Regions from separate parts of the Homo sapiens genome. Here all the other regions are linked to region 1. Evidence: fine-mapped expression QTL. A gene starts in region 1. Each other region holds a variant in brackets. All regions are shown on one strand. Distances are from middle to middle. Region 1 holds the start of RNF187 (ring finger protein 187). Region 2 has its middle 5.3 kb from the start of H3-4. Region 3 holds the start of LOC105373124 (a long non-coding RNA gene). Region 4 has its middle 51 kb from the start of RNF187.

Region 1 (8,099 bases):
TCCGTCTCAAAAAAAAAAAAAAAAAGGACGATTTCCCCCATATCTTTAGGTTTGTATAGACACAGTAAATAAATGTGTCTGCCTTTTCTCCAATTGATCTGCCTTTTGCAATTTTTCTTTCTTTTTTTTTTTTTTTTGAGACAGAGTCTGGCTCTGTCACCCAGGCTGGAGTGCAGTGATGCTATGTCAGCTCACTGTAGCCTCCGTCTCCTGGGTTCAAGCGATTCTCCTGCCTCAGCCTCCCGAGTAGCTGGGACTACAGGCATGCAGCACCATGCCCAGCTAATTTTTGTATTTTCAGTAGAGATGGGGTTTCACCGTGTTGGCCAGGATGGTCTCCATCTCCTGGCCTTGTGATCTGCCAGCCTCGGCCTCCCAAAGTGCTGGGATTACAGGCGTGAGCCACCGCGACCAGCCTTTTGCAATTTTTCATCAAAATTTGAGAGGACCAAGGGTTCCCCTTGGCACCTACACCAGCCACCCTGTCTTGGGAAGTGGGGATGCTGGCACCACACAATGTGGATTCTGCTGGTGGTAAGGGAGAGAGGCTTTCAGGCAACAATCTTTGCCAGTGTATACTTCCAAAAGTCTCTAATGCACACATGTGCAAGTTCATGGCTGCTACCATTTGCTAAGCCATGCCCCTAGTATTGGACCTTCAAGGTTTTTTTTTTTTTCTCCAAAATGAATAGTGATATGACATACATTTCTCTTTCTTTCTTCTCTTTCTTCCTCTCCCTTCCTCCCTCCCTCCCTTCCTTTCTCTCTTTCTTTCCTTCCTTCTTTTTCTCCTTCCTTCCTTCCTTTTCTTTCTTTCCTTCCTTTCTTCTTTTTCTTTTCCCTTTCTTCCTTCCTTCCTCTCTCCCTCCACTCCTTCCTTCTCTCCCCCACCCCCCGCCCCCACCTCTCTCTCTCTCTCTCTCTCTCTTTCTTTTTTTTAAGACAAGGTCTTAAAAAATTCTCTCATTTCCCAGGCTGGAGTGCAGTGGCATGATCACGGCTCACTACAGGCTCAATCTCCTGTGCTCGGGTGATCCTCCCACCTCAGCCTCCCAAGTAGTTGGGTCCACAGGTGCGTGCCACCACGCCCAGCTAAATTTTAAAAATTTTCTGTACAGACAGGTTCTTGCCATGTTCCCCAGGCTGGTGTTGAACTACTGGGCTCAAGCTATCCACTCACCTCAGCCTCCCAAAGTGCTGGGATTAACAGGCATGAGCCACCTCTCCCAGCCACATTTCTAAACAAAACAAAACAGCCCAATTTTTTACAACCCAATTTTTATTATTTTCATTTCCTGTTATTTTTATAGTTTGTTTTCTAAGAAAAGGAATTCCAATCAGAAAATCCTTAATCGATACTGCTACGTGGATTACAAGAAGCAGTATTCACAGAATCAAGTGTTTTTTTTGTTTGTTTGTTTTCTGTTTTTTGTTTTTTTGAAATGGAGTTTCACTCTGTTGCCCAGGCTGGAGTGCAGTGGTGTGATCTCGGCTCACTGCAACCTCCACCGCCCAGGTTCAAGCGATTCTCCTGCCTCAGCCACCCAAATAGCTGGGATTACAGGCACGTGCCACCATGCCTGGCTAATTTTTGTATTTTTTTTTTTTTTTTGAAACTGAGGGAGTCTTGCTCTGTCGCCAGGTTGGAGTGTAGTGGCATGATCTCGGCTCACTGCAACCTTCGTCTCCCGGTTCCAGCTATTCTCCTGCCTCAGCCTCTCAAGTAGCTGGGACCACAGGCGTGCACCACCATGCCCAACTAATTTTTGTATTTTTAGTAGAGACGGGGTTTCACCATGTTGGCCAGGATGGTCTCGATCTCTTGATCTTGTGATCCACCTGCCTCAGCCTCCCAAAGTGCTGGGATTACAGGCGTGTGCCACCACATCCAGCCTAATTTTTGTATTTTTAGTAGAGATAGGGTTTCACTATGTTGGCCAGGCTGGTCTTGAACTCCTGACCTCAGATGATTCACCCGCCTCGGCCTCCCAAAGTGCTGTGTTTACAGGCCTGAGCCACGGCTCCCGGCCAAGTTTCCTTTTTTTTGTTTGGTCTGCTTACTTAATAGTGGAAAGAAAGAGAGTCTCGTTTTATTTTCCTCTTTCTTAACTGGGCAGAGTGTACATTTTTTTCTCATGTGTGTTCAATCATTTGTGTGCTTTTTTTTTTGTGATTTGAAAAATCCCATGACAAGGTGTATTTTCCATCATGCTTTTCCTTACCTAATTTTATAAACTCTTTGTATATTTGTGGTTACAATGTTCCTAATTTGGCTATTTGCCTTTAATTATAATTTTTGATATTTTCTCATTCACAAGATTAGTTCATTATGAAGTTTGCTCATTTTTTATATTTTTTACTTTTCTCTCCAGCAAGTTCCTAGTTGACTCAACAATATCAGCAAGGCTCGGCTGGAAGCCTCTAATCTTTACTACACAGAAATAACCTCGGTTTACTATTCATGTTTCCCACGGGCATCTAGTGCATTTCCAAGTCGATTTAAAAAATCTTCACAAAGACAAAAATACCTCATTAGATCCTGCGCTTGCTTGGAATACAGATTTATAAAAATTTTTTTTTGTTTTTGTTTTTTAAGACAGAGTCTCGCTCTGTCGCCAGGCTAGAGTGCAGTGGCACGATCTTGGCTCACCGCAACCTCCGACTCCCTGGTTCAAGTGATTCTCCTGCCTCAGCCTCCTGAGTAGCTGGGATTACAGGCATGCGCCACCACGCCCGGCTAATTTGTGTATTTTTAGTAGAGACGGGGTTTCACCATGAGCCAGGATGGTCTCATATCTTGACCTTGTGATCCGCTCGCCTCGGCCTCGCAAAGTGCTGGGATTAGAGACGTGAGCCACGGCGCCCGGCCCAGATTAATTTTTTAAAATGCAAAACTTGCACAATCTTATTTTAACCATGCTTGCTTGTTTTCAAAATAATTAAAAAACAAAAACACAAGATTGCTCTTCCCAAAGGCTTATTTCTTTCCTTTAAATTTATTTTTTAAAGAAAAGCTAACGGCCGGGTGTAGTGGCTCACGCCTGTAATCCCAGCACTTTGGGAGGCAGAGGCGGGTGGATTACGAGGTCAGGAGTTCGAGGCCAGCCTGGCCAACATGGTGAAACCCCGTCTGTACTAAAAATACAAAAATTAGCCGGGCGTCGTGGCAGGCGCCTGCAATACCGGCTACTCGGGGGGCTGAGGCAGGAGAATCGCTTGAACCCGGGACGCGGAGGTTGCAGTGAGCCGAGATCGCGCCACTGCACTCAAGCCTGCCTGGCAACAGAGCGAGGCTGTCTCAAAAAAGAAAGAAAAGCAAAGCAAAGCTAACAAATGCTCTTCTGTCATGCATCATCACAGAATCAATGAGAGCTCCCCCCAGCCAGGAGACAGCGGACAACCAGGGTAGCTTCCCAGGGGGCCAGAGGGAGGCTGCGCGAGAAGAGGCTCAGCGGGATGGGTCCACGCAGGGAGATCCCACGCAGGGTGGGCGTATACGAGTGTCCACGTCCGGAGGGCCGTTCAAGGGCGGGTCCCTGAAGGAAGGGTGCACGCAGGGCACGTCCACGCGGGCAGGCCCGTGCACGCAGGGCGTGCCCATGCAGGGCGGGTCCGTGCAGGATGAGAGCAGCGGAGGAGGCCCACGCAGGCCATTTCCCGCCCCGTCCCCAGCCCACGCGGGCGAGCTACCGCGGGGGTACGCGCAGCTCAGATCCTAGCAGCTTACAAAAACAACCTTTTAAAAATGGAACCTTCAAGTAAAAATAAAACTTTGTTTCCCTCTTTCGCAGGAGTTACTGAAGTAGGAAGGGACAGCCCAGTAAGATTTCAGGATACGACTTGGGCCGGTCCGCAGGCAGTAGAGTGAAGCGCGCAGCTGCCAGGACTTGCGCGGTGACGTGCGCCGCTGCCAGGACCTTGCAGGTGGAGAGCATAGTTGCCAAAATCAAGGCGGAGGAGCGCACCGCCGCTAGGATCCAGGCGGAGAAGCCCACCGCGGCCAGGACCTAAGGATGCAGTACACTGCTGCCAGGATCTTGTCTGTGGAGCGCAGCGCGGCCAGGACCTCCGGCTGCAGCACACCGCTGCCAGGATCTTATCGGCAGAGCGCTCCGCGGTCCGGACCCCGCCCCGTGCGCGTCCCCGACCCCGCCCCGTGCGCGTCCCCGGCGTTGGCGTCTTCGTCCTGTTGCTGGTCTCCGTCCGGTCGCCGGCCGTCTAGGTCTCCGGCCCTCCCCAGCCGCTCCTGCGCCCTTGCCGGCCCCGCCGCCCGCAGCCCTGGCGCTCCCTGCGGGCCCCGCCGAGGCCGCCTGCGCCCTGTGCCAGCGCGCGCCCCGGGAACCGGTGCGCGCCGACTGCGGCCACCGCTTCTGTCGGGCGTGCGTGGTGCGCTTCTGGGCCGAGGAGGACGGGCCCTTCCCGTGCCCCGAGTGCGCCGACGACTGCTGGCAGCGCGCCGTGGAGCCCGGCAGGCCCCCGCTCAGCCGCCGCCTTCTGGCGCTCGAGGAGGCGGCCGCGGCGCCCGCGCGCGACGGCCCGGCCAGCGAGGCCGCGCTGCAGCTGCTGTGCCGCGCCGACGCCGGCCCGCTCTGCGCCGCCTGCCGTATGGCTGCGGGCCCCGAGCCGCCCGAGTGGGAACCGCGCTGGAGGAAGGCGCTGCGCGGCAAGGTGCGCGCCGCGGGGTCCCGTGCCCCACCCCGGACGGTGCCCTGCGCCTCTCCGCCCCCGCCCCGGTCCCCCTGAGCCCTGGGCCCTTCCCGTCTCCACTGTTCCTGTCCCCGGATTGTCCCCGTCCCCGGATTGTCCCCCTCCCCTCACCGCCACGGGTCCCCTCTCCAGCGTGTGCTGGGCCCCTCCCTCCTGCGGCTTGCCTCCCCATATTTCCTGCGTCTCTTCGGAGTCTGGTCCCCTTCCCCGTCTTGGTGTCCCCTGCTGGGCGGTGCCTTATCTCCCCACCCCCTACCTTCTACGAAGTCCTTCCCCCACCAGCGCCCATCTTTGTGGTCCCATCACTAGCTGTGCCCTGTCTCGCCCTCATAGACCCCCTCTAGTTCCTACAGATTGACTCCTCCACTCACTCTTCCCTTGGGGGAGACATCACGCCTCTTGCCCCTCTGTATTCCACTGTGTCCACAGGCCTGGCCCACCTTCTCGTCTGCTCCCCGGGCCACCCAGCCCTCGCCTGCACCCCCTGTCCCCTCTCCCATCTTTCAGAAACCCGCTCTGAGAGTCTGGCAGCAGCGGGTCCGGGAGTCTGGAGCCTTGCCCATGGCGGGTTGGTTGTGGGACACAGAATAGGAGACAACAGCCAGCCTGGGGTCCTGCTCTTCAATACAGGGGAGGGGAAGCCAGCCAGACTGTGTCCCTGGGTGCTCCTCCTGCATTGGGGGTCCTGCCACCGGGCAGAGCGACCCCCATCCGGCTCAGGCAGGGCAGGGTGTAGGGCAGGCTGTGCAGACCTTTGGTACAGGCCGAACTCACACTGAACAGGGCCACTTACAGACACAGAACTCCTAAACCCACCTAGACAGTCCCCTTAGCCCCAGCACCCAGATCCTTCTGAATAGGTGTGAAGCCCAAGAAACCTTTTGACTGCCTGTGCGTTCCTGCCCTAGACAACCGGGCTTCGAGGTTATCTCTGGGATGGTCAGACTGTGTGCAGTCAGCTGGGGTGATGTCCCTCAGTACTGGGCTGGGTTGGGGGACCCAGAGCTTCTGCCCACCCCTGGTGACCTTCTTTTCTTTACAGGAGAACAAGGGGTCTGTGGAAATCATGAGAAAGGACTTGAATGACGCCCGGGACCTGCATGGCCAGGCAGAGTCAGCAGCTGCAGTGTGGAAGGCAAGTGGGGGGACCTGGGGCAGCCTGGAATGAGGGGACTGTGGGCTCAGGGCTCTAGACAAAGGGACCACCAGGCCAAGTGGGCCAGGCCTCTGAACTGCTCAGCTGGTTGGTTGGAGGAGGGGCCTCTGGACTTAAGTGAGCTTCAGGGTATTTTTTTTAGGATGTGTTTGTATTTCTCAAATAGAATCTAGCCAAAGCCAGTGGAAGCCTCTTTTTCTCCTCACATTTTACCTGTAGGTGATGGCAGCATCAGACTTCTTTTTTTTTTCCCAAGAGACAGAGTCTCACTTCATTACCCAGGCTGAAGTGCAATGGCATGATTGTAGCTCACTGCAGCTCGAACTGGCCTCAGGCGATCCTCCCACCTCAGCCTCTGGGACTATAGGCACGTGCTACCACACCTGGTTAATTTTAAAATGCTTTTCTAGAGGTGGGGGTCTTGCTGTGTTGCCCAGGCTGGTCTCAAACTCCTGACCTTAAGCGGTTCTCCCGCCTTGGCCTCCCAAAGTGCTATTTTTTTTTTCTTTTTTAGAACACATCTGTAATTTTCTGTGGTCCTCTTGTTCTGATCTGAGAGTTGCTCATTATTTTTTAGAGGCTAGAAGTCCAAGATGAAGGAACTGGCAGATTCCCTGTCTGGTGAGGGCGTTTCCTGGTTCATAGATGGTGTCTTCTCACTGTGTCCTCACATGGTGGAAGAAGTGAGGGTGTCTCTGGGGCCTTTGTGTAAGGACACTGATTCCGTTCTTGAGAGTTCCACCCTCACAACCTCATCACCTCCCAAGGGTCCTGCCTCCTAACGCCATCACCTGAGGGATGAGGATTTCAGCATGGGGATTTGGGGAGGACACAGACATTCAGACCAGAGCAGCGTTACTTTCCTTGGGTGCCTTCCACAGTATTATATCCCAAGGGGACATCCCATAGATTCTTTTAGGTTACTCACCAGTAAAGCTCTTTAGTCGTTTAAACTCTATTTGGTGACTTTTTCCTCGTGTAGTAAAAACCTGTGTGCCATTTTCTCTGCGTTTCATAAATTCCTATCTCCTTCTTTTAACCTGAAAGACAGAGTGCTTTTCACAGGTGCAGCAGCTCTTGGGTAACTGGCTGCATCTCGAGGCTGAGGCCCACGTTTTTACCCCAGCTTGAGGCTGAGGTGGGCTCTGTGCTCCTGGTGCTGCCAAGCCCTTGCCTGCTATCCACAGGCCTGAGGTGCAGGCCTCCCTCAGACAGTGACGGGTTACACATGGGGTCCCTGATGCCACTCAGACCCCTGGCACTCCACACTGCCCTTGGGGCTGCTCTGAACTTCTCCTTGCCTTGTGAGTGGTCAACACTGCCCAGTGCAAGTGAGGCTGGAAGGCTTTGGGGACCTCCAAGTTTTCAGTAACCCTGTGTTACCCCAAGGGAATTGTTTTGCCCACAGATTTTAGCAGGTTGGAGCTTTCAATCTGTCCTGTTTTGGGGGTTTGTGGCTTAGATGCTGGGATGAGAGAAGCCACCTAAATCCAAAGGAAGGAGTTTGCAGCGTGTTGCATCAGCCAGCCAGCAGACACCCAGCTGTCATTTGCATTCTCAGCAACAAAAGCCTTGGCCCCTCATGACTATGGGTGTCACCTGCCCTGTGTGGCCCAGGGCCAGGTGGAAGCCATCCATGACTGAGTAAAATCAGAGTAGCATCCTGCTCTGCTCTCCTGTTTGCAAGGTTAGGAGTTGGCTGAAAACCAGCTGAAGAGTGGCAAGTGTGAATGCTGTTTGTTGAAGGCTGATGGGATGGTTTTCAGCCATTGGAGTTCTGGTGTGGGCACAGCAGGGACAGTTGCTGGCAAGATGGGTGTGTGTCCTGCCCTGACAGTCACGTGCCTGACAGGCTCTAGACCTAGCAGGGCCACTCAAGGATTTACTGTCCCCTTGGCCATGGGAGATGGGAGAGGGACAGTCTTCCTGTGCAGCTGAGCACTGCAGTGTAGGGGAGAAAGAACTCTATTTCTCCCCTTTTAGGGCCCCAGGCTGGGCGGGAGAATTAAACTGACATAAGCTAAACTAACAGGGTCAGGTGCAGTGGTTCATGCCTGTAATCCCAGCAACTTGGGAGGCTGAGGTGTAGGAGGATTGCTTGAGGCTAGGAGTTCGAGACCAGCCTGGGTAACATAGTGAGACCACCATCTGTACAAAAATTAATAAATTAGCCAGGTATGGTGTTGCATCTGTGGTCCCAGCTACTTGGGAGGCTGAGGTGGGAGGATCACTTAAG
Region 2 (8,099 bases), 57 kb before region 1:
TCTCCTCCAACTCTCAAGTTGAAATTTGATCCCTAAAGTTGGAGCCCAGGGAGGGGGGGGCCAGTGGGAGGTGTGTGGGTCCTGGGGTGTCACCCTCTGAATAGAGTCCTGCCCTCCTTTAGGGTGAGTTTTCACTCTGTTGGTTCCCTGAAGAGCTGGTGTTGAAAAGAGCCTGGCACCCCTCTCCCCTCTCTCTCTGGCGTCCTCTCTCGCGGCAGCCCTGTGACCTCTGCACATACATGGGTTCCCCTTCACCTTCCACCATGAGCAGAAGCAGCCAGAGGCCCTCACCAGAAGCAGAGGTGGGCCCTATGCTTGCTTCCTTCCTTTCTCCCTCCCTCCCTTCCTTTCTCCTTCCCTCCCTTCCTCACTCCCTCCCTTCCTTTCTCCTTCCCTCCCTTCCTTTCTCCTTCCCTCCCTTCCTTTCTCCTTCCCTCCCTTCCTTTCTCCTTCCCTCCCTTCCTCACTCCCTCCCTCCCTTCCTTTTTTTCTTCTCCCTTCCCCTCCCCTCCTTTCCCTCCTTTTTTCATCTTGCTCTGTTGCCCAGGCCCCTCTTACCTCAGCCTCCCAAGTAGCTGGGACCACATCCAGCTAATTTTTAAATTTTTAATTTTTTTGTAGAGATGGGCTGTCATTATGTTGCCCAAGCTGGTCTTGAATTCCTGAGTTCAACTGATCCCCCGACCTTGGCCTCCCAAAGTGCTAGGATTACACCGTGCCCGGCCACTATGCTTTTTTTTTTTTAATTTTTTGACCTGAGTCTCACTCTGTTGCCCAGGCTGGAGTGCAGTGATGTGATCTCAGCCCACTGCAACATCCGCCTCCCGGGAAGTTCAAGCGACTCTCCTGCCTCAGCCTCCTGAGTAGCTGGGATTACAGGCGTGAGCCACTGCGCCCAGCCACTGTGCTTCTTGTACAGCCTGCGAAACCATAAGCCAAATAAACCTTTTTTTTTTTTAATAAATCATCCAGCCTCAGGTATTCCTTTAACAACATGAAACAGACCAAGATAGAAGCCAAGAGAAATCTATACAAACAAACTTTATTAAACTAACCCTTATCTTCCTAGTTGTTGCCACAGTTACTACTCTTTGTTCAACCTAGTGTGTAAGTATTTTGACTTAGTCATTTCTTCACCCCATTAACTATCCTCACTCAAGCCCCGTGGCCGTATCAAATCTCACAACTTAATAGTGTTTGTCCACCTCTGTATATAAGTGACTCTAACTGCCTCTTTGCATCTTCATTTCCTTATGAGGGCTCCTGTACCACATTAAATTTGTATTAAATAACTGTATGTTTTTCTCCTGCTCATCTCTCTAATGTCAGTCTAATTCTTGGGCCCACCCTGGACCCTAAGATAATGGAGGTAGAATTCTGCCTCCCCTACAGCGCCCCTTGTTGATGCATGACAGGCCCACTGTCTTTGTCTGTTTTGCGTTGCTGTAAAGGAATACTAGAAGCTGGGTAATTTATCAAAACTTTTTTTGGCTTATGGTTCTGCAGGCTGTATAAGAAGCAAGGCTTCAGCATCTGCTTCTGATGAGGACCTCAGGAAGCCTCCATTCATGGTGGAAGATGAAGGGGAGCCCCTGTGTGCAGAGGTCACAGGGAAAGAGAGAGGAGGAGGTGCCGGGCTGTTTTTAACAACCAGCTTTGGCAGGAACTAATAGAGCAAGAACTCCACTCCCTACAAGGGAGGGCAGGAGTCTATTCATGAAGGATCTGCCCCCAGGACCCAAGCACCTCCCACCAGGCTGCACCTCCAACACTGGAGATTAAATTTCAACATGAGAATTAATGAGACAAACACCTTATTCAAACTATAGCACCCACTACATTGCCATCTTTGCCTTATCAATGATTACCTGAACTCCTTGTCCCCATGCGTCAATCCACACAAGATGCTTGTTTGCCCAGCCTTGGTTCAGCTTCTCCCCTCCCCCAACGCCCTGATGTTTGGCCTCTCCTGGAGCAGGCCAGGCTCAGGGTAAAGTATCCTCAATCTCTTGTCCCCTCAGCCACCCTTCATCCCACTTCCCCAGACGTGGTTCTTTCCAGCCTCATTCATTCCTCCCTATATAAGAAAACTCCTTCTCTGCGTCACCTTTGGGAGCTTGCAGACATTAAGGTCAATGCTTTCTCCCTATTGCAGTATTCTGGTATCTCCTATTGCAATATCCTTTTGCATAAAGATATCTCCTTACTAAATCTGGATTGGTTTTTTTATTGGACAGTGGTTGTTACACAGAAGGCCTGCTGCCCTCTGCTCATCGGGTCTGGTTGGCTGGGCAGACAGATGGAAGGACCCTAGGACCATCCACCTGTGAAGTCCACCCAGGCTCGCCCCTGGTGTAAATGATGTGGGGTCTGACCTGGCCAGACCAGATGCTGCTCAACCCTTTAACTGCCTGGGAGGATTTGGACACGTTCCATCTTCCTGGAGCTGTCCCTCACTCGAGAGAGGCAGCCTTGGGACTCTCCAGGTGTCCTTAGGGCTAACGGGGCTGATGATGGGCGGATGATGGATTCCAGGCACCTGCTGCGACCTCCCCAGGAGCACCTGCAAAGCAGCCCTTTCTGCCTCGTGACTCTACCCAGGCCTCCCTGTGGAGTGTGGCACAGGCTTGGCCAGTTCTCCGAGTGCAGCCAAGAGGCTCATAGGTTTTGGGCACATGTCTGCGACCTCACTTTTCCAGTCATAAGGGCTTTTGCTTTTAGATTCTCAGGGGCTTTGAGCTCCCAAACCACCCAGACATAGCACAGGATGCCACCTGGTTCTATGTGTCTGAGCAAACAAATGCACTCACATGAAGCACAGAATAAAGGGCTGCCTAAATGCGGACCCACCCACCCCTGGCAAGGCTTGAAAATAGCCTCTATATTACATGTAAAAGCGCTTTTTAGATGATTAGCTGAACAGTTCATTTTCTTGATCTCCAATCATTGAGTTCTATGTCGTTAAAACCCCTAGAAGGACCAAGACGTAGAGAAAAATGTCCCCTGAAAACTTCCCAAGAGAGATTTCCTCTGCAAACTGAAGAGAATGTGAGATACAAACATTCCCCACAAGGAACTGGTCTGTCGAGGCCACACGCATTCTGTAAATCAGTGCTTTTTCTCTGTCTCCTCGTTTTCTCTCCTTATGGTCTTTGCATGTACAGCTGAGGCAGTAACGGGACTTGTATCCTCGTGTTAAAGTTCTTTGAGATTTGGGGGTCGTACGTGGTTGGTCATATTGCATCATCTCTGTAGGAGCATTCCCATCAGCAAACAATATGCTATCGCTTCTCCAATTTATAAATTGGCTTTTCTCCTTAGTCTGGGCAGCAGCAAGCCTGAAACCATCTGGACTTTCACAAACTCACTGTAAGGGCAGAGATGGGGGTCTTACAGGAACAGGCACTCCTTCTAGGTCTGGGGTAAACAGTGCACAAAGCGATGGTGAGCTCTGTCCTCCTAAGACTCTTCCAAAGCCAGTGTGCACTAGGGTTTCCCACTGTTTGTTAGAAAGAACGCCTTCCCTCTCCATCCAATGTGCCCTTCCATCTGGCATCCCACTTCTCTGGCCCACTCTGCAGGAAACTCCTCACAAGTCCTGTCCATACTGACCATCCCCAAGTTCCATCTTCCCATTCTGTGGGCCTGGTGCATGGTGAGTGCTCCATGTGTGTCCAGGAGGGTGCCAGTGGGAGACGACTTTCAGTACGGTCTGTGGGATGAACCAGTCAGTCCACAGTCACATCATCAATTGGGACGGAGCCAAGTGCCAGTCATCTACCTTGGAGCTTCCAGAAGCTGCAGGAAACACTGACATATCTCTAAAGCAGGGGAGTATGTTGGCTGTAGCCAGTTTTTTTTACAATCGGATCTTTGCTGTGTTCATAGCCACTTTCTAAGGGCCCCAGCGTGGGTGTGTCTCCACTGTCCTGATTCCCCACCGCCTCAATAGTAAAAAAGAATCCTGCCATGTGTTCAGTGTTTTTCTGAAGGATCCTTTATAATGTCTTCTTCTTTCTTTCTTTACTTTTTAAATTTGTCTGCAAAACAAGGTATTAATCTATCCATGATAGAACACACTAAAGCAAATTTTTCTCCTTAAACAGGTAAGATGAACTTCCATCCAGATTGGGTGCTCTAGAATATTTTCTTATTAAGGAGATTTCTTTTCTTGTTCAGTTTGAATAGATGGCAAGAATTCCTCACACCATGAGCTTTTTTTGTTGTCCCATGAACCCCTGTCGCAGTTTGATGAAGCCTATGGATTCTGTCTTAGAAAGACTTTTTTTTTTTGAGATGGAGTCTCACTCTGTCACCCAGGCTGGAGTGCAGTGGTGTGATCTCTGCTCATTGCAACCTCTGCCTCCTGGGTTCAAGCAATTCTCCTGCCTTGGCCTCCTTAGTAGTTGGGACTACAGGGACCAGCCACCACACCTGGCTAATTTTTTTTTTTTATTTTTAGTAGAGACAGGGTTTCACCATGTTGGTCAGGCTGGTCTTGAACTCCTCACCTCAAGTGATCCACCCACCTCAGCTTCCCAAAGTGCTGGGATTACAGGCATGAGCCACCATGCCAGGCCAAAAAGTTTTTAAATGCACAAAAATGTTAAAAAATTATTAATACAAAGGAAAT[C/G]AATTATATTGAAATAAGTTGTGAAAACATATAAAATTAACTTGTCATAGAGTTATAAATGTGCATCTTTATGAATGCATTAAATAACATTTGAATTAGGAAGTATTTGTAGCTACTGTCATTTCAAAGTCGTGATGGGTGTTAAGGGTCTTCAAAGATATTTGCCATGACTGCACTGTAATAAAACTCCATCCTCTCTCCGCACATCAATTATACTTCTTTCTCAATGTTTTCATGATTGCCCTGGAGTTTGTAATATACATTTACAACCTAAGTCTACTTTTAATAACACTATCCTGCTTCATGATCAGGAGTGGTAGCTCATGCCTGTAATAAATCTCAGCACTTTGGGAGGCCAAGGCCAGCAATGGCTTGAGCCCAGGAGTTTGAGATCAGGGCAACATAGTGGGACCCCGTCTCTACAAAAAATACGAAAAAATAGCCGGGCATGGTGTCATGCAACTGTAGTCCCAGCTACTTGGGAAGCTGAGGTGGGAGGATTCCTTGAGCCTGGGAAGTTGAAGCTGCAGTGAGCTGAGACTGTGCCACTGCACTCCAGCCTGGGCAACAGAGCGAGACCCTGCCTCAAAAAAAAAAAAAAAAAGAGAAGGAGCCAAACGCTGATGCCCCCTAGGCCCAGTGACAGTGCCAGCACAAGGCCTATACAGGCACTTGGCAAATGCGCTGTGTTCTTATTGTTGCAAATGGCCTGTTAGCTTCCCAGGTCACAACGACCCCAAATAACTCCCACACCTGCACCATGCACCCAGTAGGCACTCAATAAACATTGACGTCAGGAATGGTCCGTGTGGGTCTGGTTCTGGTTCTCGTTTGTCTCTTCAGATTGTGTGTTCTTGCCTTTTGGCACGTCTTGTCATTTTGTGTTGAAGCTGGAGATAAAGTATCAGGTAATCAGAACTCTGGTATGGCTGGGGGTGGTGGCTCATGCCTGTAATCCCAACACTTTGGGAGACTAAGGTAGGAGGACTGCTTGAGGCCAGGAGTTCAAGATCAGCCTGGGCAGCATATCAAGACCCCGTCTCTAAAAGAAAAAAAAAATTAAAAAAAAAAAAAACTTAGCTGGGCATGTTCGTGTGTGCCTGTAATCCCAGCACGTTGGGAGGCCAAGGTGAGAGAATCGCTTGAGCCCAGGAGTTTGAGTCTGCAGTGATCTATGACTGTGCCACTGCACTCCAGCCTGGGCCACAGAGTGAGACCCTGTTTAAAAAAAAAAAATCGGGAACATAGGCCGTTAGCGTGAGCATTTACATCATCTGGCTCGAAACTGGGCTCTTTTTCATGTTTATTATAGCCGAAGTTTTGTTTACCTAGGGTCCTTGTTCTCATCTCCCCTCCTGACTTTAAACTTCCCTAAGAGCTCCTTCACACACTGTCCGGTGTATCATAGTGAGGACTAAGCACTGACCTTTTATCTTACCCAAATAAGCTCTCACCTTTTATCTTACCCAAATTCCCACCTACGGGGTCTAGGGAGTCAACCCCTACAAACCATAAATTCTCATCAGATGGGTTTTATTTGACCCTATATATTGTGACTGACTTTTCAATCTGACTCTGGCATAAAATTTTGAGACAAGGAAAAAATATTCAACCCCAAAATATATATTCCTTGCCATGCCTTGAAATTGCCCTGAAAAATCTCTTGTGGGAAAAATCCACATTCTATAGAGAATCCCCTTTCCCCTTTGTTTTCCTTCCTTTCTTTCCAGATCCAGGAGATAATCAACTAAGAGCCAGGCACCCTTTTAAGTCCCATAAGAAACAATTTACAACCTGCTGTCTCTGAAGTTGGCTATCTGAGCACTTCCTCTGCACAATAAAACTTGGTCTCCACAATCCTTTATTTTTAACCTGAACATTTCCTTTCTATCGATCCCAGGTCTTTAGACAAGCTCAACCAATTATCTGCCAGAAAATGTTTACATTTACTTATAGCCCGGAAGCACTTGCTTTGAGTTGTCCTGCCTTTCTGAACCAAACCAATATATTTCTTAATATTTGATTAATGTCTCATGCCTTCCTAAAATATATAAAACCAAGCTGTACCTCAACCACCTTGGGCACATGTTCTCAGGACCTCCTGAGGGCTGTGTCATGGGCCATGGTCACTCATATTTGGCTCAGAATAAATCTCTTAAAATATTTTATGGAGTTTGACTCGCTTGATCAACAGTAGCTCTTTCTGTCAGACTGTACTCACACTGGAGCCTTATGGCGTGGTGGCCGGCCTGGGGTGGAGGAAGCATTCCATAGTGTTATGATGAAATCTCAGCCTCTTATTTGGCCTGTGCCCCTGGACTGTGACCTTCACAGGTGTTTCCTAGCTGCTTTTGTCTCCTTAAGGCTAGAGGTGGCTGAAGTGGAGGGAATACCTTTCTCGAAAGGAAAATAAATCTGAAAGGAAAATAAATCTTGGTGCCCCAGAATCACTAAGCTAAAGAGAAAAGTCAAGCTGGGAACTGCTTAGGGCAAACCTACCTCTCATTCTATTCAAAGTCACCCCTCTGCTCCCTGAGATAAATGCATATCTGATGGCCTCATTTGGAGAGGCTAATCAGAAACTCAAAAGAATGCAACCATTTGTCTCTTATCTACCTATGACCTAGAAGCGCCCTCCCTGCTTCAAATTGTCCTGCCTTTGCCTCGAGTTGTCCCACCTTTCCGGACTGAACCAATGTACATATTACACATAATGATTGATGTCTCATATTTCCCTAAAATGTATAAAACCAAGCTGTGCTGAGACCACCTTGGGCACATGTCGTCAGGACCTCCTGAGGCTGTGTCACAGATGCACATCCTCAACCTTGGCAAAATAAACTCTCTAAACTAATTGAGACCTGTCTCAGACATTTGGGGGTCACACCTCCCCCAGCTGGATTAAGCCTGTTAGTGTCTCTCCCCTGAAGGGTAGGCCTTTCTTGGGGGCATGTCCTGAGTGTACTTCACCATGGTTGCTTTCCCGCCTCCTGCCACAGCCTGGAGGGGTCTTTTCTATTGCACCAAGAGAACCTAGTGGGGTTCCTACAGGTAAAAACCAAGAAAAGAGTGGGCCACCCACACCCATACTGTTGGAATTCAATTTTCCACAAATTGAAAAAAATTAAAATTCCCAAAATGGAAACACCTTCAGTCCCCAGGAAATTCTTACTCTCAGGCTGTTCCACACTGATGGCTGGAGATTTCCTGCCAGTCAAAGGCTCCGGAAGCTTCTGCTCCAGGTAATCCTGGGCTTCCTTCTCACTGGGGAAGGATGTATTTCATCATCACACAGGACGCTGGGGTTTGGTGTGCGTTGTTTTATCATAATAAGAAATGATCAATTTATTTTATCCAAACTTTGCTATTTACTTAAAAAGATAACTATCCAATATTAGCAAAAATAATTTTAGAACTAAGAATTTTTGCTTTTCAAAATTTATGAACATAATGAGTCACATTTACA
Region 3 (8,099 bases), 24 kb after region 1:
ATTGGTGTACCTGAAAGTGATGGGGAGAATGGAACCAAGTTGGAAAACACTCTACAGGATATTATCCAGGAGAACTTCCCCAACCTAGCAAGGCAGGCCAACATTCAGATTCAGGAAATACAGAGAACGCCACAAAGATACTCCTCGAGAACAGCAACTCCAAGACACATAATTGTCAGATTCACCAAAGTTGAAATGAAGGAAAAAATGTTAAGGGCAGCCAGAGAGAAAAGTCGGGTTACCCACAAAGGGAAGCCCATCAGACTAACAGCTGATCTCTCGGCAGAAACTCTACAAGCCAGAAGAGAGTGGGGGCCACTATTCAACATTCTTAAAGAAAAGAATTTTCCACCCAGAATTTCATATCCAGCCAAACTAAGCTTCATAAGTGAAGGAGAAATAAAATCCTTTACAGACAAGCAAATGCTGAGAGATTTCGTCTTTCTTTCTTTCTTTCTTTCTTTCTTTCTTTCTTTCTTTCTTTCTTTCTTTCTTCTTTCTTTCTTTCCTTCTTTCTTCTTTCATCTGTCTGACAGGATCTGGCTCTGTCACCCAGGCTGGAGTGCAGTAGCACAATCATGGCTCACTGTAGCCTTAAACTCCTGGGCTCGAGTGATTTTCCCACCTCAGCCTCCTGAGTAGCTGGGACAACAGGCACACACCACCATGCCTGGCTAATTTCTTTATTTTTATTTTTTTGTAGAGATGGGGTCTTGCTATATTGCCCAGGGTGTCCTCAAACTCCTGGCCTCAAGCAATTTTCCCGCCTCAGCCTCCCAAAATGCTGGATGACAGCTGCAAGCCACCACAAGCAACTCTGTCATAATGCAGTCTTTATAACCAGCTGAGCACAATCTCTACTCTCAAAATAGGGCTCTGAAGTCTAGGAACAAGTCCTCAGCTCCTGAAATGACAGAGGAGGAAGTGAGTGAAGTGAATGAATGAAGGACACAGTCAATATTGAGAATAATCACAGTGATTGCAACTGTAAACCCTCCCTGACGCGGCCTTGCTCTGAATGCTACTCTGTTGGTCTTTCAGGATGGTATCAGCACTCCCAGCAGACAGAGTGGCTCAGGGCTCACACCAGGTCCCTCAGCCCACACCCATCAGACTTGGGGTTCAAACTCAGATCTGTCTGTTTTCAAGACAGAGCCCAACCAGCCTGCCTGAAATCAGCCAGTGAAGACTTAATTGAGGGATTGCTAGGAGACAGATGGTCTCACTGGGTAGATCATAATCAGGCAATGCCAGAGGGAGGATCCCCACTGGCCACCCCATTCCTACTGTGTCTGAGGACACATGGACGAAGCCTCAGCTCAGGGCTTCGTGTTAGGGTCCTGGATTTGGGGTGGGGGGGCAGGATGTGCCTTGTCGGGGCTCCCTGCTCACCACGCCATGGCTCAGCCTTGTCGCTGCTGGTGGGCCGCCTCTGCTCCTTTTCTCTTCACTCCCTCTCTTCTTCCAGTGATGCTTTGTTCTTTTCCCTTTGACGTTTCCAGAAGATGCAGATGCCTCCAGCTATTACGAGTCCCATGGCAACAAGGATCAGAGGCAGAGCTGCTTTCCATGCCGTGAACTGGGAGCTTCTGGAGAAGGTAGCTGGAGAAGATTCCCAGAAGCCAGGAATATTGGGGTAAGAGAGTTTCTGTGTTCTGAGGTCAAACTTGCTAAAGAGTTCAGTAGTCCAGGGACATAATATTTGCAAATTACTGTGAAATAGTTTCCAAAATAGTATGTATTTGCACAGCTGGTCTATGGACCGAATGTCTGTGTCCCCCAAAGGGGTTGAAATCCCAACCCCTACGGTGATGATGTTAGGAGGTGAGGCCTTTGGGAAGTGATGAGGTCATGAGGGTGGAGCCCCTGTAACGGATATGATGGGAATGGTGCCCTTATAAAGGGGAGAGCCCAGAGAGCTCCCTCACCCCTTCCACCATGTGAGGACACAGTGAGAAGGCGCTGTCTATGAACCAGGAAGTGCCCTTGCCAGACACCAAATCTGCCACGCCTTGATCTTGGACTTCCCAGCTTACAAAACTGTGGGCAATAGCTATCTCTTGTTTCTAAGCCACCTGGTCTGTGGTATTTTGTTATAGGCACACAAATGGAGTAAGACAGTTGGGTTTAGACATATGCATAGGAAGTAGATATTAGATATCTATTTGTAGATAGACAAAGGGAGAAGTGATAAAAAGAAATATCGCAATAAGGTAAAAATATGGTGAATCTGAGTAAAGGGTGCACAGACAACTTTTCTATTAATCTTGCAAAGTTTCTGTAAGTTTGACATCATTTAGAAAAGTAAAAGTGAAAGTTTTTGTGAAAAGCTAAATTTGGAAACAACCAAGATATTTTTTAGTAGGTGAATGGATCAATAAACAGTGGTCCATCCAGATCCTGGAACGTTATTCATTTCACAAAAGAAACAAGTTATCAAGGCAGGAAAAGACATGGAGGAAACCTAAATGCGTACCACAAAGTGAGGGAAGTCAAAGTGAAGGGGCTACAGAGGCACCGTCCCAACTACAGGACATTCCAGAACACCTGGAAACTATGGAGACAGTGAAAACATCAGTGGTGGCCAGGAGTTAGGGGAGATGAATGAATGAGCGGAGCACGGAGGATTAAGGGCAGTGACATTATTTTGTATGATACTATGACAGATATGTGGCATTATATATTTATCTAGAACCATGGGACACCATGCCAAGAGTGAGCCCTCATGAAAACTGCACTCTGGGTGCTGACGGCATTGTCAACGGAAGTTCATCAAACATGGTGGACGTTCCTTCTGGTGTAGGGTTTTTATGCTGGGGGAAGGTGTGTGAGGGGGTTAGGGGAAGATGGGAACTCTCTGGACTTTCTACTAAAATTTGTTGTGACCCTAAAACTGCTTTAAAAAATAAAGCCTATTTTAAAAAACCCTAAAAACTGTTGATATTAGGATGTACATTTCTTGTTCCCCCAAAGGCAAGGCTCTCCCCAGGGTCCCTGCACCCTTATCTCTGTTCCTCTTCAGTAATCAGCACCCAAACAGTGCACCTCCTGGGATGCCCCAGCCATGTGAGGACAGGGACCTGCCACCCATCCCTGCTTGCCACAAACCCCACAGCTGTCTCTTAATGTCCCCAGTGTCCAGGGCCACGGAATCCTGTGCTCAGTGATTGTGAGGACAGAACTGAATAGAGGACTCACCGGGCAGGTGGCTCTCAGCCACCTTCCTCCTTTCAGGGAGGAGGGGGCTGGAGATGGAGCAGGAGAGACCCTCCACAGCCCTGTCCCAGAGCGTCAAGCTGGATGCCACAGCCCAGAGCCTGGTGGTGGCTGAGGCTGATAGATTGGTCACAGCAGGCCTAGCCTGGCCCCTGAAGTCTCTCCGTTCCACCCAGGACTTGGGGAAACAGCCTGCTGATGTGCACTCCGCCCTGACTCCATCCTGCTGGTCTGTCACCTGGATTCTGGGCTCTCTGCCCAGCCCTGAAGGAAGAGACAGCAGCTTGAATCTTTGCAGCCATGGCTGCTTCTATTTAAAGGAAAAACAAAATCTTGAGGATTTCCAATGTATTTTGGCAATTTCACAAACTGCCTACCCTGTGTTACACACCATCCCTAACAGAGTTCCCCATTTCCCAGACAAAAGAAGGGAAGCAAAGTGGAAAAGGTCCAGGAAGATTGAATAGGCATCCTGTGTTGCAGAAGTAGAATTCATGGCACAAGATGGGACCCAGGCTTGTCTGTTTCGAAGCACAA[G/A]TTCTGAGTCACTCGGGAAACCTCCCGTATCTGAAGACTCTCTTCTCTCTCTTGGCCTTTCTGTCTCCTGTCATTATTTCTCTGTCTCTCTCTTCCTCCCACTCTCTGTTGCTTACTGTCTTTCTCATTTTCTTTTACTGTCTCTCTGTCTCTGTCTCTATCTCCCTCTCTCTGTCACTGACTCTGTCTCTTTGTCTCTTTCATTCTCTCTGTGTTTCTCTCAGTTTCTCATTCTCTCTGTCTCTCTCCATCTCTGTCTCTCCTGTCTTTCATTCTCTGTCTCTGCCTGTCCCTCCCTCTCCATCTCTCTCTTTCCCCATCTCTATAATTCTGTCATTCTTTCTTCATCTCTCTCTGTCTTTCTCTCATCTCTCTGTCTTTCTCTCCATCTCTCTTTCCACCTCTGTCTGTCTCTCCCTGCTTCTTTCTCATTCTATCTCTTCTTCTCTGTGTCTCTCTCATTCCCCCCATCTCTCTCTTTCCCTTCCCTTCACTTTCCAGTCCACTGGTGTAAGGAGGGAAAGGAAGATGAGGAAGGTGGCTCTGCCTTCACCGCTGTGCTTCCCGGGAGCAGTGCAGGCCAGCACGGCAGCTGGGAGAGTGCACTCTCACCCTACTGAAAAGCCCTCCACCTGAACACGCTGGGCCCCAAGGCCATGCCTGGAAGTAGACTGACAGCCAGCTAGCCACCAGCCTTACCTGCCACCTGCACCTGCACAGTGGCCTCGCCGAACTTTACACCATCCTTGAAGCGGCAGCAGTATGTCCTGTTGTCAAAGGTGGTGACCCTGTGACTCCTCACCATGGCCTTGCCCCTGGCCACGTGGTCACTCATGAAGGTGGTCCTTCCTCTGTACTGCCACTTTTGCTCTCCATCCATGTCCATCCCTCTCTCATGCATGTGCACAGCTAGGGAGGGCTGGCACCTGTACCACCTCAGCTCCATGTCCTCGGCACTGATATTGGGGAACAGCTGGCACTGTAACTCCACGTGTCCCCCAGCCATAGCCAGAATAGGGGCATGAGGCCCAGTGACATCAAAGTCAGCTTTCCCTGGGGGAGGCAGATCAGAAAGGGCTGGGTTAGGCCATGTGTTGGGAGGCCAGGGCACTTCCCCCCTGCCCCTCCCTCTTCTTGGAAGCTTTGGGGACCTATTGAGCCCTGAGCTGCTGGGAGATGCTTCAGCTTCCCGCCATGCTGGACACACCCCCACCTATGCCAGGGCACCTGCCTCGACTTGCACAGGAGTCTGTCCCTCAGTTTTGACAGATGCTGGCCAGTGGGAGCTGCAGGAAGACCAAGGTGACAAAGCAGATGGACAGGAAGGCCTCTGGATCGCATGTCACTGCCATTCCTGCCAGGCCGGAGCCACGCACTGTCACTGGGAGAGGAGCCACCGCCAGGAAGCTAACAGGTGCAGAGGAAAAGTGCCATGGAAGAAAAAGAAGAAAAAGGTCATTTACTCTCACTCTCAAACAAGTTATTAATGCTATAAATGGAGACACAGCAAGCCTCATGTGCTCCTGTACCCATCTCCTTGCGGGTAACACACCTCTCACCCTAGTCTGTCTGCGGAATTCCACGAGGACATCCAGGAGGGAAGGGGTTTGATTTTCTAATTGCTCATAAAGAGCTGTAGCCCAGTCTCTAGCTGGTGACTGTCATGAAACTCCAGAATGCTGGGGGAGAAAACCCAGACTCGGATTAAGCAAATTCGAGGTCAGAACGACATCAAGGGATTCCCTTAATGTCCCTTGCTTTCCTGCTGTCCCCATGGGGACTTCTACAGTCAGGGGCTGGGGGCTGGGCCCAATCCTCAGAGCTCTTCAGCTGGGATGGGCAGGCCAAGACCCTCATGAGTCTCTTGTGAGCATTTCTTGTAACCTTGGTTTAGAGAGCAGGTGTTGGTAAAAAGTTCTGTGACCTTGGGCGGTTCTACCCAGCACAGCCATCCAGGTTGGGCATTTACGTGTGTGATTAGGGAGTTGTGTGGGCACAGGCTCTTGTCCTGTTTGGTTCTTGCATTGCAGGAAGGCCCTGTGGTCCTTCTGCCCTTGGGGATGGGGAGAGGGTGGAGGAAGCAGAGACACTGAAGAGCAAACCACATCCTGACCATAGACAATGCTCACCTGGCACCGAGAGCTGCTGCAGCTTCCCTGGGAAGTCCTGGCAACTTTGGGGGAATGAATTTAGTTTCCTGCCAACTCCAGGTAGGGTGTGACCCAGACCAACCACGCTGTCTCCAAGCAGTGATGTGAAAGGCAACCTAGACATCTGGCAAAAGCCGCCAAGTCCCCCAGTTTCCAGAGATTCTTCCTTTTGTTTTTTGCAAAAATATGTAACTGTACCTTTCTGGCAGTTGCAGCAGAAAAAAAAAAAAAGGCTTCCTGAAGAGTGTGATCCCCAGTGTGGAACACCCCAGGGCTGGGGAGCAGGAGATAGAGCCCGCCGGGAGGAGACGGGTCTCAGGGTGGGACCCAGGCCAGCTGAAGGAGCTGCAAATGCAGATAAAGCCTGTGGTTATCTGGCAGCGTGCAGGCCCAGCCTAGCTGGCCCAGGTCCTTCAGGAAAGGTGTTTATGATCATGTCGCAATGTCCTAATTCCTGTATTGTCCCAGAGGGACGTTCAGGGCTCCTCTTCCCCAGCCCTTCGCTGCCCTCCGTGGCTGTGGGGTCATGGGTGTCTGTTCTCACTGGTAGCATCCCTGGCCCAGCTTAGAACCTTCATGCTGATTTCTCGCACCCAGCCGCAAGGCCTATTCCCTCCTCACCTTCTTGTTTGATGATTCAAAAGTCTGGGCCTTTTCCTGGGTGGTTTTTGTGAGAAAGGAGTCCTTGCTTTCCTAGAGGGAGGAGCTTTATCCAAACTCTGCAGACGGGCTGAGCACTCCCTGTGCCTGCGGGCGGTGAGGAAATCCAAGTGCCAGGTCCCTCCTATGTCCCTCCTTGGGGGAGCGTCTCTTTGGTCAACCGGTTGTTCCCCCTTTTATATGTCAACACGTAAGAATTATGTCGTCCTGTGATCTGCTTTTACCAGACAATGACGTGACCTAAAACTCGACTCACTTGTCCTTTTTAAAAAAATAATTGACCAGACGCGGTGGCTCACACCTGTAATCCCAGTACTTTGGTAGGCTGAGGCAGGCAGATTGCCTGAGGTCAGGAGTTCAAGACCAGTCTGGCCAACGTGGTGGAAACCCATCTGTACTAAAAATACAAAAAAATTAGCCCAGCATGGTGGCCTGTGCCTGTAATCCCAGCTACTTGGGAGGCTGAGGCAGGGGAATTGCTTGAACCAGGGAGGTGGAGGTTGCAGTGAGCCAAGATCGTGCTACTGCACTCCAGCCTGGGTGACAGAGTGAGACTCTGCCTCAAAAAAACATTAATTAATATGTTGTTAAAGACAGGGTCTCACTCTGTCACCCAGGCTGGAGTACAGTGGTGTGATCTCAGCTCACTGCATCCTTGATCTCCCAGACTCAAGCAATCCTCCCATCTCAGCCTCCCAAGTAGCTGGGACCACAGGTGCACCATCATGCCTGGCTAAATTTTTGGTATTTTTTGTAGAGATAAAGTCGTGCTATGTTGCCCAGGCTTGTCTTGAACTCCTGGGCTTAAGCAATCCTCCCACTTCGGCTTATCAAAGTACCGTGGTTACTGGCATGAGCCACTGTGCTGCATCCAGTCACACTTGTCCTGATGACTTGGGAAGAAGGACTCAGGTTTGAACAATCTAGAGTGAGCCGCTACGATGTACAGAGCACACTGTGTTGAGAGCAGATTGTGATGCCTGTTGTCGGATGAAGAGTGTCACAAGCACTGGGAGAAGCTATGGCAGAGAAAGGTGTCCTGGCGGTGTGGGCTTTCAGCCCATGGGTAGGTCACCTGACACGGTGGTCCTTCTGTGCATGAGCCCATGTGTGGCCCAGAGTCTCTCATGTGGGCAGTCGGGGCTCCTGCAGACACATTCAGCTCAACCCACCTCAGGTACAATGTTTAAAGTTCAAAGGCAAGAAGAAGACAGGAGGTCACACACTGCACAATTCCATTCATATGAAATGATCAGACAGGTAAATACAGGGACAGAAAGAAAACTGTGGTTGTTGGGGCTGAGGAGATGGGGGAGGTGGAAATGGAGATGAGGAATAACTGTTTAATATTTTGGGGGTTTTATTTAGGGTGATGAAAATATTTTGGAATTAGATAGAGGTGGTGGTTGCAAAACATTGGGAATGTACTTAATGCCACCAAATGGTATGCTTTAAAATGGTCAATTTTATATTATGTAAATTTTATCTCAATTGATAAAAAAGAAAAACATTAAAAAAAGAAAAAGCAGAAAAAAA
Region 4 (8,099 bases), 51 kb after region 1:
GAATGCCTGGGATCACCCGATGTCTCTATTATTAGAATGCCTGGAATTGGCCAGGAGTTTTTCTTATTAGAATGTCTAGGGTCTCCCAGGTGTCTCCATCATTATAATGCCTGGAGTCGGCTAGGAGTCTCTCAAATTAGAATGCATGGGGTTGCCCAGGTGTCTCTATCATTAGAATGCCTGGAATTGCCCAGGTGTCTTTTTCATTAGAATGCCTGGGGTCACCCAGTTGTCTCTATCATTAGAATGCCTGGGGTCAGCCAGGAGTCTCTCCCATTAGAATGCCTGGAGTTGCCCAGGTGTGTCTATCATTAGAATGCCTGGGGTCGCTTAGGTGTCTCTATCATTAGAATGCCTGCAGTCGGCAAGGAGTCTCTCCCAACAAAATGCCTGTGGTCGCTAAGATGTCCCTATCATTAGAATGCCTGGGGTCGGCAAGGAGTCTCTCCCATTAGAATGCCTGGGGTCACCCAGGCATCTCTATTATTAAAATTCCTGTACTCAACCAGGAGTCTCTCTCATTAGAATGCCTGAGTTCACCCAGGTGACTATCATTAGAATGCCTGGGGTCAGCCAGGAGTCTCTTCAGTTAGAATGCTTGAGGTCGGCCAGATGTCTCTGTCCTTAGAATGCCTGGCATTGGCCAGAAGCCTCCATCATTAGAATCCATGAGGCTGGCCAGGCATCTCTCCCATTAGAATGCCTGGGGATGGCCAGACATCTGTTTGGCCAAATAGGAGTCTCTCTGGTTAGAATGCCTGGGGTCACCCAGGTTTCTCTATCCTTAGAATGCCTGAGGTCACCAAGGTGTCTTATCATTAGGATGACTGAGGAGGGCCAGAAATCTCTCCCGTTAGAATGCCTGTTGTCGGCTAGGTGTCTATCGTTAGAATGCCTGAGTTTGCCCAGGTGTGTCTATAATTAGAATGCCTGTGGTTGGCCAGGAGTCTCTATCATTAGAATGCTTGGGGTCGGCCAGGAGTCTCTCCTGTTAGAATGCCTGGTGTTGGCCAGGTGTCTCTATTTTTAGAACGCCTGAGGTCGCCGAGGTGTCTCCATCCTTAGAATGACTGAGGTGGCCAAGGTGTCTCCATTATTAGAATGCCTGGGCTCAGCTATGAGTCTCTATCATTAGAATGCCTGGGGTCAAGCCAGGAGTCTCTCCCTTTAGAATGCTTGAATTCGGCCAGGTGTCTCTATCCTTCCAATGCCTGAGGTCGCCAAGGTGTCTCTCTGATTAGAATGCCTGGGGTCAGCCAGGTGTCTCTCCTGTTAGAATTCCTAGGGTCAGCCAGGTGTCTTTATAGAATGCCTGAGGTTGCCCAGGTGTCTCTATCATTAGAATGCCTGAGGATTCCCAGGAGTCTCTATAATTAGAATGTCTCAGGTTGGCCAAAATTCTCTCTGGTTACAATGCCTGTGGTCGGCCAGGTTTCTCTATCCTTAGAATGCCTGAGGTCACCCATGTGTCTCTATCATTAGAAGGACTGGTGTTGGCCAGGAGTCCCATTACAATGCCAGAAGTCAGCCAGGTGGCTCTATCCTTAGAATGCCTGAGGTCACACAGTTGTCTTTACCATTAGAATGCTTGGAGTTGGCCAAAAGCCTCTATCATTAGAATGCCTGGGGTCGGCCAGGAGTTTCTCCCATTAGAATGCCTGGGGGTGGGCTAGATGTCTCTGTCCTTAGAATGCAGGAGGTCGCCAAGTGTCTTTATCATTAGAATGCCTGAGGTCAGCCAGGAGTCTTTCCTGTAAGAACACCTGGGGTTGGTCACGTGTCTCTATCTTTAAAATTCCTGGGGTAGCCCAGATATCTCTATCATTAGAATGCCTGGGGTTGGCCAGGAGTCTCTCCCATAGAAAGCTGGTGGTTGCCCAGGTGTCTATCATTACAATGCCTGGAATCAGCCACGAGTATCTCCCATTAGCATGGCTGGGGTTGTCCAGGTGTCTCTACCATTAGAATGCCTGGGGTCAGCCAAGAGTCTCTCCCATTAGAATGCCTAGGGTTGAAGAGGGGTCTCTATCATTACAATGCCTGGGGTCTGCCAGGAATCTCTCCATTAGAATGCCTGGGGTCGAGAAGTTGTTACTATCATTAGAATGTCTGGGGTTGGCCAGGTGTCTCTCTGGTTAGAATGCTTGAGGTCGCCCAGCTGTCTCTATCATTACAATGCCTGGGGTTGGCCATGAGTCTCTCCAATTAGAGTGCCTGGGGTGGCCCAAGTGTTCCTATTATTATAGTGCCTGGGGTCGCTCAGGTGTTTTTATCATTAGAGTGCCTGTGGTCAGCCAGGAGTCTCTTCCATTAGAATGCCTGGGGTCGCCCAGTTGTCTCTATCATAAGAATACCAAGGGTCAGCCACGAGTCTCTCTCATTAGAATGCCTGGGGTCGCCCAGGTGTCTCTATCATTACAATGCCTGAGGTCAGCCAGGAGTCTCTCCCATTAGAATTTCTGTAGTCACCCAGGTGTCTCTGTCATTACAATGCCTGGAATCATCCACGAGTCTCTCCCATTATAATGATTGAAATCATTCCAGTGTCTCTATCATTAGAATGCCTGGGGTAACCTAAAAGTCTCTATTATTAGAATGCCTGGGTTTGGCCTGGAGTCTCTCCCATTAGAATGCTTGGGGTCTCCCACATGTCTCTTTCTGTTGGGAAAAAGCTGAGTGTTGGGAAAAAAGCTGAGGCAGGGCTTGCATGTCTGACATGATGTCCAGGGCTCAGAGCATAAAACCTCTCGTGGCCTCTGGAATGAGTCTAGACTTGCTGGCTCCTTGCTTCTAGCTTAAACTAGAAGAACATGCTCCCCATTATCTCAAGTAGCAGAATATGTCCCATATGCTTCAAAGGAAATGCTAAACCATCACAGCTGTAGATCATGTGCTTGCCCTTTTGACCCCCACATTCTCATCACCCGTTTCTTTGCTTGATCACCAATAAATAGTCTGGGCTTCCAGAGCTCGGGGCCTTCACAGCCTCCATACTAGCATTGGCCCCCTAGACCCACTTTCTTTCTCAAACAGTCTTTTCTCATTCCTTTGACTCTGCCGGACTTCATCACCCCCATGACCTGGTGTTGAGTCTGATCACCCCGACATCTGTCATTACAGTATCTGGGGTCGGCAAGGAGTCTCTCCTATTAGAATGTCTGTAATCCATCAGGTGTCTCTATCATTAGAATGCCTGGGGTCGCCCAGTTGTCCCTTTAATTAGAATGCCTGGGGTTGGCCTGAGGTCTCTCCCAATAGAATGCCCGGGGTTGCCCAGGTCTCTCTATCATTAGAATGCCTGGGTCAGCAGGAGTCTCTCCCATTAGAATACCTGGGGTCACCCAGGTGTCTCTATCATTAGAATACATGGGGTCAGCCAAAAATCTATTCCATTAGAATGCCTGGGCTCACTCAGGTGTCTCTATTGCTAGAATGCCTAAAGTTGGCCAGGAGTCTCCCCCATTAGAATGCCTGGGGTTGCCCAGTTGTCTCTATCATTACAATGCCTAGGATTGGCCAGGGGCATCTCCCATTAGAATGTCTGTGGTGGACCAGGTATCTCTATCATTAGAATGCCTGGGGTACGCAGTGGTCTCTATCATTAGAATGCCTGTGGTCACCCAGGTTTCTCTATCAATACAATGTCTGGGGTCTGCCTGCAGTCTCTCAAATTAGAATGCCTGGGGTCAGCCAGGAGTCTCTCCATTAGAAGGCCTGAGGTTGCCCAGCTGTCTTAATCATTAGAACGCCTATGGTCGCCCAGGTGTCTTTATTATTAGAGTGCCTGGTGTCACCCAGTTGTCTCTATCATTAGAATACCTGGGGTCACCAAGCTTTCTTTATTTTTAGAATGCCTGAGGTCGGCCAGAAATCTCTTCCATTAGAATGCCTGGGGTCA[C/T]CCAGGTTTCTCTATCATTAGAATGACTGGGGTTGGCCAGGAATCTCTCCCATTAGAAAGCCTGGGATCGCTCAGTTGTCTGTATCATTAGAATGCATGAGGTCAACCAGAAGTTTCTTTCATTAGAATGCCTGGCGTTGCCCAGGTGTCTCTGTAATTAGATTGCCTGGGGTCAGGTAGGTGTCTCTCCCATTAGTATGCCACGAGCTGCTTAAGTGTATCTATCATTAGAATGCCTGGGGTCACCCATTTGTCTCTATCATTAGAATTCCTGGGGTTGGCCGAAAGTCTCTCCCATTAGAATGCATGGGGTCACCCAGGTGTCTCTATTATTAGAATGCCTGTGGTTTGTCTGGAGTTTTTCACATTATAATGCCTGAGGTTGCCCAGGTGTCTCATTAGAATTACTAAGGTTGCCCAGTATTCTCTCCCTTTAGAATGCCTAGAGTCTCGTTGGTGTCTCTATCATTAGAATGCCTGGGGTTGGCCAAGGGTCCCTCTCATTAAAATGCCTAAAGTAGCCCACTTGTCTCTACCATTATAATGCCTATGGTCAGCCAGAAGTCTCTCCCATTCGAATGCCTGAAGTCGTCCAGCTGTATCTATTATTAGAATGCCTAGGGTCGGCCAGGAGTCTCTTCCATTAGAATGCCTGCAGTCATCCAGGGGTCTCTATTATTACAATGCCTAAGGTCGCCCAGGAGTCTCTCCCATTAGATTGTCTGAGGTCACCCAGGTGTCTTTCTCATGAGAATGCCTAGGGTCAGCCGGGGGTCTCTCCCCTTAGAATGCTTGGGGTCGCCCAAATGTCTCTATAATTAGAATGCCTGGGGTTGGTTGGAGTCTCTCCCATTAGAATGCATGCTGTCACCCTGGTGTTTCTATCAGTAGAATGCCTGGGGTCTCCCAGTTGTCTCTATCATTACAATGCCTGGGGTGGGCCAGAAGTCTCTCCATTAGAATGCCTGAGATGACCAGCTGTCTCTGTCATTAGAATGCCTGGGTTTGTCCAGGAATCTCAACCATTAGAATGCCTGGGGTTGCCTGGGGTTGCCCAGGTATTAGAAAGACTAGTGTTGGCCAGGAGTCCATCTTGTTAGAATACCTGGGGTACCAAGTCGTCTCTATCATTAGAATGCATGGTATTGGTCAGGAGTCTCTCCCATTAGAATGCCTGATGTTGCACACGTGTCTCTATCATCAGAATGCCTGAAAGAGCCCAGGTTTCTATATCATTAGAATGCTAGTGGCCGGCCTAGGGTCTCTCCTATTAGAATGCCTGAGATCGGGCAGGAGTCTCTTTTATTAGAGTGCCTGGGGTCTCCCTAGTGTCTCCATCATGAGAATGCCTGGGGTCAGCCAGGAGTCCTCCCCTTACAATTCCTGGGGTCACCCATGTGTCTCTATCATTAGAATGGCTGGGGTCGGTTGGGATTCTCTCATTAAAATGCAAGGGGTCGCCCAGGTGTCCCTATTATTACAATGCCTGGGGTCAGCCAGGAGTCTCTTCCATTAGAATTCCTGGGTTCCTCCAGGTGTCTCTATTATTAGAATGTCTGGAGTTAGCCAAGAGTCTCTTCCATTACTATGCCTTGGGTCACCCACTTGTCTCTATTATTACAATTCCTTGGATCAGCCAGGAAACATTCCCATTAGAATGCCTGGGGTGGCCCAAGTGTTTCTATCATTAGAATGCCTGGATTCCACCAGGAGTCTCTCCAGTTAGAATGTGTGGGTTCGTCTAGGTGTCTCCATCATTAGAATGCCTTGTGTGGCACAGCTGTCTTTATCATTAAAATGCCTGAGGTAGTCCAGGAGTCTATCCCATTAGAATGCCATTGGCTGCCCAGGTGTCTCTATCATTAGAATACCGGAATGGGGAAGGATTCTCTCCCATTAAAATAGCTGGGTTTGCCCAGGTGTCTCTATCATTAGAATGGCTGGGGTTGCTCAGGTGTCTTTATCGTTAGAATGTCTGGGTTTGGGCAGGAGTCTCTTTCATTAGAAGGCCTGGGGTCGTCCTGGTGTCTCTATTATTAGAATTCCTGGGGTTAACCAGGAGTCTCTCCCATTAGAATGCCTGAAGTCACCAAGGTGTGTCTATCATTAGAATATCTGGGGCTGGCTGAGATTCTCTCCCAGTAGAATGCCTGGGGTTGCCCAGTTATCTCTACCATTAGAATGTCTGGGGCCGGCCAGGAGTCTTTTATATTGGAATGCCTGAGGTCGCCGACGTGTCTTTATCATTAGAAAAACTAGGGTCATCTGGAAGTTTCTGTCATTAGTATGCCTGGAATGTCCCTGGTTTCTTTATCATTACGATGCCAGGTGTCAGCCTAGAGTGTCTTTCATTAGAATGCTTGGGATCGCCCAGTTGTCTCTATCATTAGAATGCCTGTGGTCGGCCAGGAGTCTCTCCCATTAAAATGCCTGGGGTCGCCAAGGTGTCTCTATCATTAGAATGCCTGGGGTTGGCCAGGAGTCTCTCCCATTAGAATGTCTAAAATCACCCAGGTATCTCTATCATTATAATGCCTGAGGTCTCCCAGGAGTCTTTTCCATTGAAATGCCTGGTGTTGCCCAGATGTCTTTATCATTACAATGCCTGGGGTCAGCCAAGATTCTCTCCCATTAGAATGCCTGGGGTCGCCCATGAGTCTCTCTCATGAGAATGCCTGAGGTTGGCCAGGAGTCTTTCCCATTACAATGCCTGGGGTTGCCCAGATTTCTCTATCATTACAATGCTTGGGGTCAGCTAGGAATCTCTCCCATTAAAATGCTTGAGGTCACCAGATGTCTCTAACATAAAAATGCCTGGGGTTAACAAGGAGTCTCTTTCATTAGATTTCCTTGGGTTGTTCAGGAGTCTCTATCATTAGATATTCTGGAGTCACCTAAGGGTCTTTATCTTTCAAATGCCTGGGGTCAACCAGGGGTATCTCCCATTAGAATGCCTGAGGCCTCCCAGGTGTCTCTGTAATTAGAATGCCCGGGGTCGCTTAGGTGTCTCTATCATAATAATGCCTGGAGTCCCACAGGTTTCTTAATAATTAGAAAGCCTGGGGTCAGCCAGGAGTCTCTCCCATTAGAATATCTGTGGTCACCCAGGTGTCTATTATTTGAATGCCTGCGGTCAGCAAGGAGTCACTGCCATGATAATGCCTGGGGTCGCCAAGCTGTCTCTACCGTTAGAATGCCTGGAATCAGCCAGAAGTCTATCCAATTAGAAAGCATGTGATCTCCCAGGTGTGTCTAACTTTAGAATGCCTGGGGTCAAAAAGGTGTCTCTATCATTAGAATGTTTGAGGTCAGCCAGGAGTCTCTCCCTTTAGAATGCATGGGTTCTCCCAGATGCCTGTATTATTAAAATACCTAGGGTCAGCCAGGAGTCTCTCCCATTAGAATGTCTGAAGTCTTCAAGGTGTCTCTATCATTAGATTGCCTTAGATAGGCCCGGAGTCTCTCCCATTAGAATGCCTGGGGTAACCCGGGTGTCTCTATTATTAGAATGCATGGGGTCAAATAAGAGTCTAATAAAAATGCCTGGGGTCACTCAGGTGTCTCTAATATTAGAATGCCTGGGGTTGGCCATGAGTCTTTCCAGTAAAATATCTTGGGTCACCTAGGTATCTCTGTCATAATGCTTGAGTTTGACCAGGAGTCTCTCCCATTAGAACGCCTGGGGTTGTCCAAGTGTCTCTATCATTTGAATGCCTGAAGTCACCCAGGTGTCTCTATCATTAGAATGTCTTGGGTTGGCCAGAAGTCTGTTCCATAAGAATGCCTGGCGTCACCCATTTGTCTCTATAATTAGAATGCCTGGGGTTGGTCAGGAGTCTCTCACATTAGAATGCCTAAAGTCGCCCGGGTGTCTCTATAATTAGAATGCCTGTGGTTGGCCATGTGTCTCTCCCATTAGAATGCCTGGAGTCTCCCAGATGTCTCTATCAATAGAATGCCAGGGGTCATCCAGGAGTCTCTCCCTTTAGAATGCCTGGGTTCACCCAACTGTCTGTATAATTAGAATGCCTGGGGTCACACAGGTGTCTCTATCACTACCATGCCTGGAGTCAACTAGGAATCTCTCCCATTAAAATGCCTGGAATCACAGAGGTGTCTCCATCATTAAAATTCCTGGGATCAGCCAGTAGTCTCTGCTATTATAATACCTGGGGTAACCGAGGTGTCACTATCATTAGAA

What was found. PIP is the estimated chance that this variant, and not a neighbour inherited with it, causes the effect.
Region 2: its variant is the best candidate, but not a certain one, in a credible set for the expression of RNF187 in pancreas (GTEx, PIP 0.73).
Region 3: its variant is the best candidate, but not a certain one, in a credible set for the expression of RNF187 in gastroesophageal junction (GTEx, PIP 0.51).
Region 4: its variant is the best candidate, but not a certain one, in a credible set for the expression of RNF187 in transverse colon (GTEx, PIP 0.80).

The regions. Positions count from the first base shown.
Region 1 is chr1:228,483,211-228,491,309 of GRCh38, forward strand. It overlaps RNF187 (ring finger protein 187), which reads left to right and starts at 4,172. Exons shown (of 4, transcript NM_001010858.3): 1 at 4,172-4,668; 2 at 5,750-5,842. The coding sequence starts at 4,279. RefSeq lists enhancers at 3,050-3,911, 3,231-3,610, 3,912-4,772, 4,890-5,618, 5,619-6,346 and 1 more and silencers at 4,231-4,350, 4,611-4,810.
Region 2 is chr1:228,426,657-228,434,755 of GRCh38, forward strand. No RefSeq gene overlaps it. Among named protein-coding and RNA genes, the nearest start is that of H3-4, 5.3 kb to the left of the region's middle. The variant C/G (reference allele first, on the strand shown) is at 4,634.
Region 3 is chr1:228,507,199-228,515,297 of GRCh38, forward strand. It overlaps LOC105373124 (a long non-coding RNA gene), which reads left to right and starts at 849. Exons shown (of 3, transcript XR_949233.3): 1 at 849-924; 2 at 1,503-1,636; 3 at 2,693-2,934. It also overlaps the pseudogene BTNL10P. RefSeq lists an enhancer at 3,940-4,441. The variant G/A (reference allele first, on the strand shown) is at 3,754.
Region 4 is chr1:228,534,170-228,542,268 of GRCh38, forward strand. No RefSeq gene overlaps it. Among named protein-coding and RNA genes, the nearest start is that of RNF187, 51 kb to the left of the region's middle. The variant C/T (reference allele first, on the strand shown) is at 3,899.